Regions from separate parts of the Homo sapiens genome. Here region 2 is linked to region 1. The links come from fine-mapping of genetic effects on gene expression. A gene starts in region 1. The other region holds a variant in brackets. All regions are shown on one strand. Distances are from middle to middle.

Region 1 (5,382 bases):
GTCTCACTGTGTTACCCATGCATGTCTTGAACTCCTGGACTTTTTTTTTTTTCAGTCTGTCGCCCAGGCTGGCATGCAATGGTGCAATGATGGCTCACTGCCGCATAGACCTCCTGGGCTCAAGTGATCCTCCCACTTCAGCCTCTCAGATAGCTGAGACTACAGATGTGAGCCACCACGCTGGGCTAATTGAATTCTTGGCGTTAAGCAATTCTTCTGCCTTGGCTTCCCGAAGTGTTGAGATTACAGGTGAGTGACTATGTCCAGACCCCTACACACTTTTAAAAAAATATTTTTGGATTTTAAGGGGTTTTTGTAGAGTTCTGGAATCCTGTAAATTCTTTTCAAATTCTGTTTTGCTTTTTTTTTTTTTTTTTTTTTGAGATGGAGTCTCACTCTGTCGCCAGGCTGGAGTGCAGTGGTGTGATCTCGGCTTACTGCAACCTCCGCCTCCCAGGTTCAAGCGATTCTTCTACCTCAGCCTCCCAAGTAGCTGGGACTACAGGCGCCTGCCATCAGGCCCAGCTAATTTTTGTATTTTAAGTAGAAACGGGGTTTCACCATGTTGGCCAGGATGGTCTCGAACTCCTGACCTCGTGATCCACCCGCCTCTACCTCCCAAAGTGCCGGGATTACAGGCATGAGCCACTGCGCCCGGCCATTTTTGGTTTTTTATTTTTAAATGGAATCTCACTCTGTTGTTCAGGCTTGAGTGTCGTGGCACCATCAAGGCTCACTGCAACCTCTGCCTCCGGGTTTAAATGATTCTCTTGCCTCAGCCTCCTGAGTAGCTGGGATTACAGGCGCTGGACACCATGCCCAGCTAATTTTTATATTTTTAGTAGAGACAGGGTTTCGCGATGTTGGCCAGGCTGGTCTCAAACTCCTGACCTCAAGTGATCTGCCTGCCTCGGCCTCCCAAAGTGCTGGGATTAAAGGTGTGAGCCACTGTGCCCAGCCTAATTCAGTTCAAATTCCAAGCTAGGGGTTTCATATCCTATATGTGTAGAACATGACAAATATTTACCAAATATACTTTCATTAAAATCTGAAAGGTGAAACCTCAATTTAAAAAAAAATCTCCTACTTAAAAACAATGAAGTTTTAGTTTGCCACATTATCTTTAAAATACAATATGCCTTATTGTGTAGCATATCTCAAACTTTAAAATATTTAGTTTAGGCCAGGAGCAGTGGCTCACGCCTGTAATCCGACACTTTGGAAGGCCGAGGCGGTGGATCACTTGAGGTCAGGTGTTTGAGACCAGCCTGGCCAACATGGTGAAACCCCGTTTCTACTCAAGATACAAAAATTAGCCTAGCATGGTGGCGCATGCCTGTAATCCCAGCTACCCGGAAGGCTGAGGCAGGAGAATCGCTTGGACCCAGGAGGCGGAGTTTGCAGTGAGCCCAGATTGTGCCACTGCACTCCAGCCTGGGCGACAAAGGGAGACTCCATCTCAAAAAAAAAAAAAATTACTTTAAATGTGATTTAAAGCCTAGTTGTTAAAGTGTAAGTGTTCTCAAGGACTTTAAGATGTCTTTATGCCACAGTTGTCAAATATAATATTTCTAGAATTTAAAGTCATTTTTTAGCACTAAAATAACTACATGCAGGGCGGAGGTACTTGGACAAGGAAGGACCTAAAAAAAGTGTTCATCACCAGAAAGTTTATTTGTTCATCATCACCAACATTAAGAGGCCAATGGCCAGGAAGAAGCCAATTGTTGAAACCATTCTAAAACGACTGTGTTGCTTGGGAAACCAGAGAAGTTGGTGAACATTTGATGCGCCGAAAGCCACATCACTCAAATTTTCTCGCCCTCCAAATCTAGCAAAGAAAAAGAGAGAGGAAGCAGGGATAGAGGGGAAGAGGGGGAGGGAGGGGAGAGAGGGAGAAAGGAGAGAGGAAAGGCAAGAGAGAGAGACACACAGAGAGGGAGAGAGAGGGAGAGGGCAAAGGAGAGGAGAGGGAGAGAGAGGAGAGAGAAGGGGGGGCAGAGAGAAACAGAGGAGAGAGAAGAGGGGAGAGAGAGAGACAGAGGAGAGAGAAGAGGGGAGAGAGAGAGAGATTGAGAGAGAGAGAGAGAAGAATGAGAGATGGGCAGGGATCTGTCCAAGCAGGACTTGAGCGCCAAGCCCCGCCCCTGTTTCCCAGGTAACCTGATAAACAGACTCCATCTTTTCCTCTGTGAACTCGGCTAGGTGTTAAGAGGCAGGCAGGAAGCAATGGACAGGGAGTCCGAGTGAGGTTGTGCTCTTTCCTGAGAGAGGGGTTCCGCAAGGGATTGGAGGCGTCTTTGTAGCCAGGTACAGCTTTCCCCTTAGAGATGAGCGCTCTTGGAGAAATGAGAATGGGGAGAAATCGTCCATGAACATGGAGATTGGACATCCCCACGAAGGAAAGGATGATTTAGGAGACAAGAGGGTCATCATGGGAACAAAATTTCCCATGGAGTTGGGGATCAGAGTAGGATTAGGAAAAGAAGATTCCCGATGCGGGGAGAGCCCTGTGGTTAGTAATAAGTGTGAGGGAAGGATGGCACCACCAGAAACAAAATTTCCATTGAGCAAGGGGCTTGAAATGGGATTAGAAAGACAGAATATTTCTAGGACTGTCATGCAGAGGGGTAGTTTAGGAGTCGACAGTGTCTCAGCTTCACAGGGAACAAAACCTTCTCTGTTGCCAGGAAGAATGGGGTTAGAAAATGAGAGTCTTCTTGCAGGATATACCCATGAACGGATAATACAGCCTCCTTTGGGCAGGGTGTGTGGAAGTTCACAGGCTGCAGGGAGCAGGAGAGCTCCTTTGGCTAGTGGCCCTGAAGGGGTAGAGGAATTAGTGGGAAAGCCTGCTTTCGTTATGGAACCAAGACAGGAAATGGAAAAAGAGTCTACCTGTGTTTTAATGAAACCCAACACAGAGATTAAGCTTCCTGTGGAGGTGGACATTGGACTAACCCAAGCCGAGGGGCCAGATGAGACTAAGAATACAGAGCCCCAAATGGGCTTGGTGATAGAACCTCCCCAATGCCAGTTTGCCCAACAACATGAACAGAGAAAGGAGGCTGGAAACATTGAATCAGGAGTGGAACCTCCAGATCGCATCAGACCCATATACTCTGGGAAGTTTTTTGATCGGACCCCTTGCTGGCCAAGTGTAAGTTTTTTTCCACTTTCCATAGGAACTAAACTGTGTATAGCCATGTCTTTATTGAGATGATAAAGTGATAAAATTTGTTTTGGTTTGAAGAGACAAATCACAAGGATTTTATGAGATTCCTATATTTCTTGCCCCACTGGAATCTTTGCAGATGTTACTTAGATTTCTGATTCTCTGCCTCCCTTCCTAGATGTCAGCTTTGTTTTCTCTGCACACCGGTGGTTTGTTCTGATTTCTCTTTTCTCCTTTAACCTTCATTTCATTTTCCTCAAGCCTCTCACATATTGAAATACATGAAGATACATGCTGTGCCCTAATATTCATACTATGAATGGAAAAGAAAAGTGTTTCTTTTTCCATTCATTGTTTAGTCTGTGAGTTATTTGTTCTTTCAGCAAAGACTTGTGGTAGCCATTGTGCCAGGTACAGGACAAACTAAATTGAAAAGTACATGGTCCCTACCTCTAGGTTTAGGCTCACTCCAGTAATGGAGACAGATAACTAAAGGAATAGTATACAGTTATCTAAATTTATAAAAACACACATGATTCTTCCTTCATAGAAGTACACTCTGAATACAGAGCTCAGTGTAAAGATTGCACAATTCTGTTTAGAAGAGATGGGAAAAGCTTAATAGGGAAAGTAATATTTGAGCTAACATCGAAAGGTGTCAGTATTTGTCTGAAGAAAGAATGAGGTTAGAGCATTTTGGGCATAAAAAGGTATAGAGCACAACCAAAGCTTCCTATGTTCGAGAGGCATAAACAGTTGTATTCAGCCAGCAGGGTGTTGAGAGATGAAGATGAAGAAGAAATATGTAGAAGACATCTAAAGGCCCAGAATATAGGGATAAAACATATGGATACAGTATCAATGGTGGATCTTAATAAGGGTAAAAATAAATAAAATTTGCCTTTTAGAAAGATAATTCTGATATCAGTAGTTATGATGGACTGGAAGGGGGAGATACTGAATGACAAGTAGGTAGTTAGAACAACATTCCAAAGTTCTGATGGACTGGAATTAATGTAGAGTTAGAAAGAATAGAAAGGAGACTGCACTTTTGAGAGGTTTTTAGATGACATTTTAAAAAATTGCCACTCAGTTGTGGATCTACGTGGTGAGTAAGGGAAGTTGGTGGATGACTCAGGAGTTTCTGTGTTGATAATGATCTCTTTGGGTTTGGTGGCAAATGAATGTCCAGTGTTGGCTATCTTCAATATGAGATGACAGGTAAAGAAGCCAGGGAAACACTTGGTAATATGAGACAATTGATGCCCCATGGGTGTGAATGGGAGAAGAAAGTCAAGGCAAGAATCTTGGGAAACATTGACATGAGGTGGTCAGTGAAAAAGATGTCAATAAGGTGAGTTCTTGAGGGCAAGGACTATATCTTGTTCATTGTTTACCTTCATGTCATACCACAATACCTGGCTTATGGTGGTCATTCAATAAATACATGTTTGATAAATAGAAGGAAACCCGGATGATTAAATGGGAGAAAGACCAGTCGGAGAAGAAAAAAGTAAGTCTGAGACATTGGTATTGAGAAACATAAGAAAGTGTCCTTAAGTTATAATGTGAGTAAGAGATTCCACACACTGAAATTTGAAAATAAAACTCAGCTGAAGAGGTCACAGGGCTTCCACAGAATTTTGTCTGGGTTTGAAGACTTTTCCCCTTCAGACTCAGAATGTTCTTTTCTTCTTTGTCTCACACTGCTTTCTGGTTTCCTCTTTGGGTTTTCCCAGCCACTTTACTTGACCACACCGGTTCCCATTTCTGGATTGGTTCTGCAATTTACAGCTTCTGATCTGATCTGATCTCACACACATGCAGACACCAGCTTCCAGTTTCCAGCACAGGCAATTCTAAAACCTCTGCTTCCTCCCACTTCGCATACCTTCCTTTCTAAATGTGATAGGACAAGAAAGAGAGTGTCAAGGAGAGAGTGACCAGCAGTGTTAAATCATCTCTGATAGGCCTTGTGCAGTGGCACTAGCTGTAATCCCAGCACTTTGGGAGGCTGAGGCAGGAGGGTTTTTTTGTTTTGTTTTGTTTTTTGAGACAGAGTCTCACTCCATCACCCAGGCTGGAGTGCAGGGGTGCAATCTCAGCTTGCTGCAAACTCGGCCTCCCAGGCTTAAGCGATTCTTGTGCCTCAGCCTCCCAGTAGCTGGAATTCTAGGAGCATGCCACCACACCCGGCTAATTTTTTT
Region 2 (5,382 bases), 33 kb after region 1:
GCCTCCCGAGTAGCAGGAATTACAGGTGTGTGCCACCATGCCTGGCTAATTTTTGTATTTTTAGTAGAGATGGGGTTTCACCATGATCGTCAGGCTGGTCTTGAACTCATGACCTCAGGTGATCCGCCCGCCTCAGCCTCCCAAAGTGCTGGGATTACAGGCGTGAGCCACTGTGCCCAGCCCTTTTTGTATTTTGAAACTTAATTGGAATGTTATTGCTAGCAGTAGAGAAATTCTTTATTCTTTTGGTTGCAGTTTAAAAAGAGCTCACTACTTCATTCAGTTTGATTTCTGTTACAAACGTGGAGTCAAGAGTGTTAGTCTACATTTTGAGGCATCTAATTTTATATGCACGATTTAATGTAAATTTGGTTTACTCTCAACTTTTATGGGATATATTTCCCCTGTAAAAGAGGATCTCTATTGGCTGGGCATGGTGGCTCATGCCTGTAATCCCAGCACTTTGGGAGGCTGAGGCAGGCAGATCACAAGGTCAGGAGTTCGAGACCAGCCTGGCCACATAGTGAAGCCCTGTCTCTACTAAAAATACAAAAATTAGCTGAGTGTGGTGGCACGCACCTGTAGTCCCAGCTACTTGGGAGGCTGAGGCAGGAGAATCGCTTGAACCCGGGAGGTGGAGGTTTAAGTGAGCTGAGATGGCGCCATTGCACTCCAGCCTGGGTGACAGAGCAAGACTCTGTCTCAAAAAACAAAAACAAAAACAAACAAACAAACAAAAACGATCTCTATCTATATTTTGCCTGTGACCTTTGGTTTGAATAATCAAACCAAAGTCAAATCAAACTTTGGTTTGAGTCATCAGATGTAGGCATGCCTGTGCGAGTGCATGTGTTTGTGCGCATGTGTGAACGAATGAATTCACTGGCACACAAAGAGCTTTATCTGAGTTGGTTCGTGAATGCAACTCAAGATTGTTGTGTAATGATGTTGCAGTTATTGATATTCTGACATACATGGTTGCCCACAGATACTTCCTGATTGTTGCAGAAGCATACTCCAGGCAGTTCTTGACTAAAAAGAGTTGGCTCTGTGCCTGACAGTTCTTTTTCTTATCATCTCTGCATGTTCCTAATTATGTACCTTGGAGCTGATTTTTTTTTTTTTTTGAGACAGAGTTTCACTCTGTTGCCCAGGCTGGAGTGCAGTGGTGTGATCTTGGCTCACTGCAACCTCTGCCTCCTGGGTTCAAGCGATTCTCCTGCCTCAGCCTCCCAAGTAGCTGGGATTACAGGTGCCCATCACCAGGCCTGGCTAATTTTTGTATTTTTAGTAGAGATGGGGTTTTGCCATGTGGGCCAGGCTGATCTCGAACTCCTGACCTCAGGGTGATCCACCTGCTTCGACCTCCCAAAGTGCTGGGATTACAGGTGTGAGCCGCTGCGCCTGGCCTGGAGCTGATTTTTAGATTGTTAACTCTGTTTGTTCAAGTTATAGCCCTAAACTGCATTGATTTATTCTGACTCCACCTACATTCTTCCCCCCCGCCAACAAATGGGAAGGAAATGAAGAAACGAGATGAATTACTTATGTTTCTTCTTTTGTTCCTCCACAGAGTGTCACTCTTCTCCAGAAATTTATTCAGCTCAGTAGTTCAATAGTACAGGAGATACTTTGAAAAGCAAATGGAGTTTTAAGAATGTAATGTTCATTGTCTTTAGTCTTAGCAAAACAATAGAGAATTTATTAATTTTAATGTTATTAAATAGTAGTGTTGTAATTTTACACGTTTCAAAAGAAATTTTATTCATTTAATCACAACAGTAGAAGTAACAAAATTATTTTACAGAAAACTGGCAAAATAAAATCGCTCATAATCCTGTTCACTTTAATTCAGCCATTATTATCATTTTAATGTATTTTTTCCTAGTGTGGCTCCCTATGTAGATTTTTGCATAGTTTTTACCAGAGTGCAATCCCATTTTATATCCTGTTTTCCACCTAACATAAAATAATTATATATTGCTGTATATGCCAGCATTGAAAATGCATGCAGTGTATTCTTATTGATGTGACAGAATTTAATTACCCTCCACAACTGAACATTTTGATTCTTTTCTTTATTCCACTGTCATCAATGAGGCTACAAACATTTTTTATACATATAACTTTTCTACATTTTTTTTTTTTTTGAGACAGGCTCACTTTGTTGCCCAGGCTGGGGTGCCGTGGCATGATCTTGGCTTACTGCAGCCTCTGACTCCCAGGTTCAAGTGACTGTCCTGCCTCAGCCTCCCAAGTACCTGGGATTACAGGCGTGTTCCACCACACCTGGCTAATTTTTGTAGTTTTAGTAGAGATGGGGTTTCACCATGTTGGTCAGGCTGGTCTTGAACTCCTGACCTCAAGTGATCTGCCCACTTTAGCCTCCCAAAGTGGTGGGATTACAGGTATGAGCCACCGTGCCCAGGCTCTTTTCTACATTTTTAATTGCTATCTGGATTATATCATTATTATTGGTTCCCAGATGTGGATAAAAGGGCATGAGTGTTTTTATGCTTTTTGATTCATATTGCCCAATTATTTTCAAAAGAACTGTAGGAATTTGCACTAGCAATCTGTAAGTGTTTTACCATATTTTTTTGCCAAAGTTAGATATTCTTTCTCTCTCCATATGCTTATATATATTTGCTTGTTTACTAGGTTAGAAGTGGCACTTTGTTATTCTTTTATTTTACATTTATTTTATTACTAGAGAGTATTATAAATTCTCCATGTATTTGCTTACTAGATGTGAGTTATTTGTTTATATCCTTTGGCTATTTATTTATTTGATGCTAAATTTTTTTATTTTTATTTTCATTTTTTGTAGAGATGGGATCTCACTATGTTACCCAGGCTCGTCTCAAATTCCTAGCCTCGATTGATCCTCCAGCTTTAGCTTCCTAAAGTATTGAGATTACAGGCATGAACCACTGTGCCTGGCCTGATGCTTAATTTTCTTCTAGCAATTTTACGAGTTACACTTACTTTATTTTATTTTTTTGAGACAGGGTCTCACTCTGTCACCCAGGCTGGAGTACAGTGACGTCATCTCAGCTCACTGCAACCTCAGCCTCCCAGTCTCAAGCGATCTTCCTAGCTCAGCCTCT[C/T]GAGTAGCTGGGACTACAGGTACATGCCACCACGCCCAGCTAGTTTTTGTATTTTTTTAAGAGACAGGGTTTTGCCATGTTGCCCAGGCTAGTCTCAAACTCCTGAGCTCAAGCCATCTGCCCACCTCAGCCTCCCAAAGTGTTGGGATTACAGCAGTGAGCCACTGTGCCCGGCCAGGAGCTACACTTACAATAGTGATATTAACACCTTGTTTTATTTATTAAAAATATTGTTTGCTTACCTTATTCATTAATCAAGGTTTATTTTATTTTAGTGTAAATGAAAGAAAAATGAACACATAAAACTTTCTTTTTAGCAGAGAGTTTCTTTTGAAACTACATTTGTTCCTGGAAGGCCTAATGATACTATGGTATTCTTCGCCTTATGTATATTTGGCAGCCAAGAATACTTTAGGTAATAGAGATACCTGATAATGTTCTAATTTTGCAGGAAAAGAGGAGCTAAGTTTGTATCCAAAAGAGCAGATGATTTCAAAGAAAAGTTTCAACATAAACTTGGAAGAGTTTTAGATCCGTAAGTTAATGATTAACTTCAAATTGATAGTTTCTTTGCATAGAATTTAAAAAATACTCTTGTGGTAACTGTTGGTGTGCCTATTAGATTCTATCTATTAAATAAGAAAATCATTATTTTATTGTTAATCAGTTAATCTGTTAATATCTATAGAATTTGGGATTCCAGGAAAGCAGTGAGTTCTCCAAAATGCAGAAGGCACTGGAGAAGAGAGAGGGATAATTTTGCATAAAGCATTATTTCTGGGATATCAGAGATTTAACTTACTGTGTTTATATTTTTCTTTGTCTTTCCTGTCTGTCTGTCTTGCTCTCTATTTATACTTTGGTAATTTTGCTTTGAATGTGTTCTGTGTGTTCTGCTTTTCTTTGTAATTCTGGGCTCCTGAAAGAGGGTGAAAACATTCAGTCATTGTTAATGCAAGTGGAAGATCAGACAAAAGATCTATTGGAGAACTTTTGTTTGATCTTCATAGTTTGGTTATGAGATAAAATATGGGCTACTAAGAACATATGGCAAACATATTTTAAATTCCAGAGATGCCATGTGGTGGGTATTTTAACTAAGGATTTGTTTTCTTTGATAGCATTGCAGAAACAATGAATGTTCCCCCAGACTGCACATTTGGAGCTTGTCTCCGTCCTGAGGAATATGGTAAATATACACACTTTCTCCGTAAAAAACCCCAAACAAACAGCAACAAAATCCCCACAAAGTTATGCAGTTAAGCTCACCATCTCCTTATTTCAAAGCTTCTAATTTTAAAGACTTAAAATGTTGCATTAACATTAATGAGAAAAGTGTATAACACAGAAGTAAATTTTTTTTCATATTATGTTTGAAATAGGTACAGTTGGAAGCCCTTGTAATAAGTACTGTAAGTGTAGTTAAGGCTTTGAATTTTATTTAGGAAAAATAAATATGGCCTATATTAAACAAGCCAAAGTGAAGTGGGGCAGCTTTTTAATTAATTTGGATATTGTCCTAGTCCTAACGTCTCAAAGTGTGGTCTGCAGACTGCCAGTATTGGCATCCCCTGGGAGCTCCTTAGAAATGCAGAATCTCAGGCCCCATCCCAGAACTATTGAATCAGAAACTGCATTTTAACTATATTTCCAGGTGAATTTTAAGCACATTCAAATATGAGAAAGCACTGTACTCTACAACCACATAATTAAGAACCACTCTTTTCCTACCAGCCAGCCAGCTAGCCAGTAAGTTGATCAATCAATCAATACATAAAGTAGCAGAAGAAACTTACTTGGATTTTGTCTTTATTTCTAGCCAATCTAAACAGCAGATATCCAAAGGGAAAAATATGCTACAGCTTATCAGGATTGGGCTGTATATCAGTGGTTTTCAAAACATGGGCTGCAGACTACCTGCATTAAAATCATCCAGGGAGTTTATTAAATCTGCACCTTCCTGGGACCCATGCCCTAGATATTCTGATTCAGTAGGTTCTTATATACACTAACGTTTAAGAACCACTATGAAAAATGTTTTGGCTAAAGTCAACTCATTGACAGGTAGAATAAATATTTATTGAGCTTATGCAAGACAGTGGTTTGGAGCATCATTAATTACTACATTAGGAAATTGTATTTGGGTTCTGTTTTTACACAAACTACTAATGTTTGATGGATGCCTATCCATCTTAGAGGCTTTAATATCTTTTGAAGAGGGTAAGGGATGATTAGGAAACCATCAATTAGCTTGAAAAAGAAGTAGGTAATC

The links. PIP is the estimated chance that this variant, and not a neighbour inherited with it, causes the effect. A credible set is the group of variants that fine-mapping cannot tell apart.
Region 2: its variant is the best candidate, but not a certain one, in a credible set for the expression of EFHB in nasal epithelium (TOPMed, PIP 0.60).

What each region holds. Positions count from the first base shown.
Region 1 is chr3:19,931,008-19,936,389 of GRCh38, reverse strand. EFHB (EF-hand domain family member B) reads left to right here and starts at 2,173. Exons shown (of 13, transcript NM_144715.4): 1 at 2,173-3,160. The coding sequence starts at 2,372. RefSeq lists a silencer at 4,879-5,173.
Region 2 is chr3:19,897,695-19,903,076 of GRCh38, reverse strand. It overlaps EFHB (EF-hand domain family member B), which reads left to right. Exons shown (of 13, transcript NM_144715.4): 7 at 3,562-3,645; 8 at 4,232-4,299. Among named protein-coding and RNA genes, the nearest start is that of EFHB, 34 kb to the left of the region's middle. The variant C/T (reference allele first, on the strand shown) is at 3,111.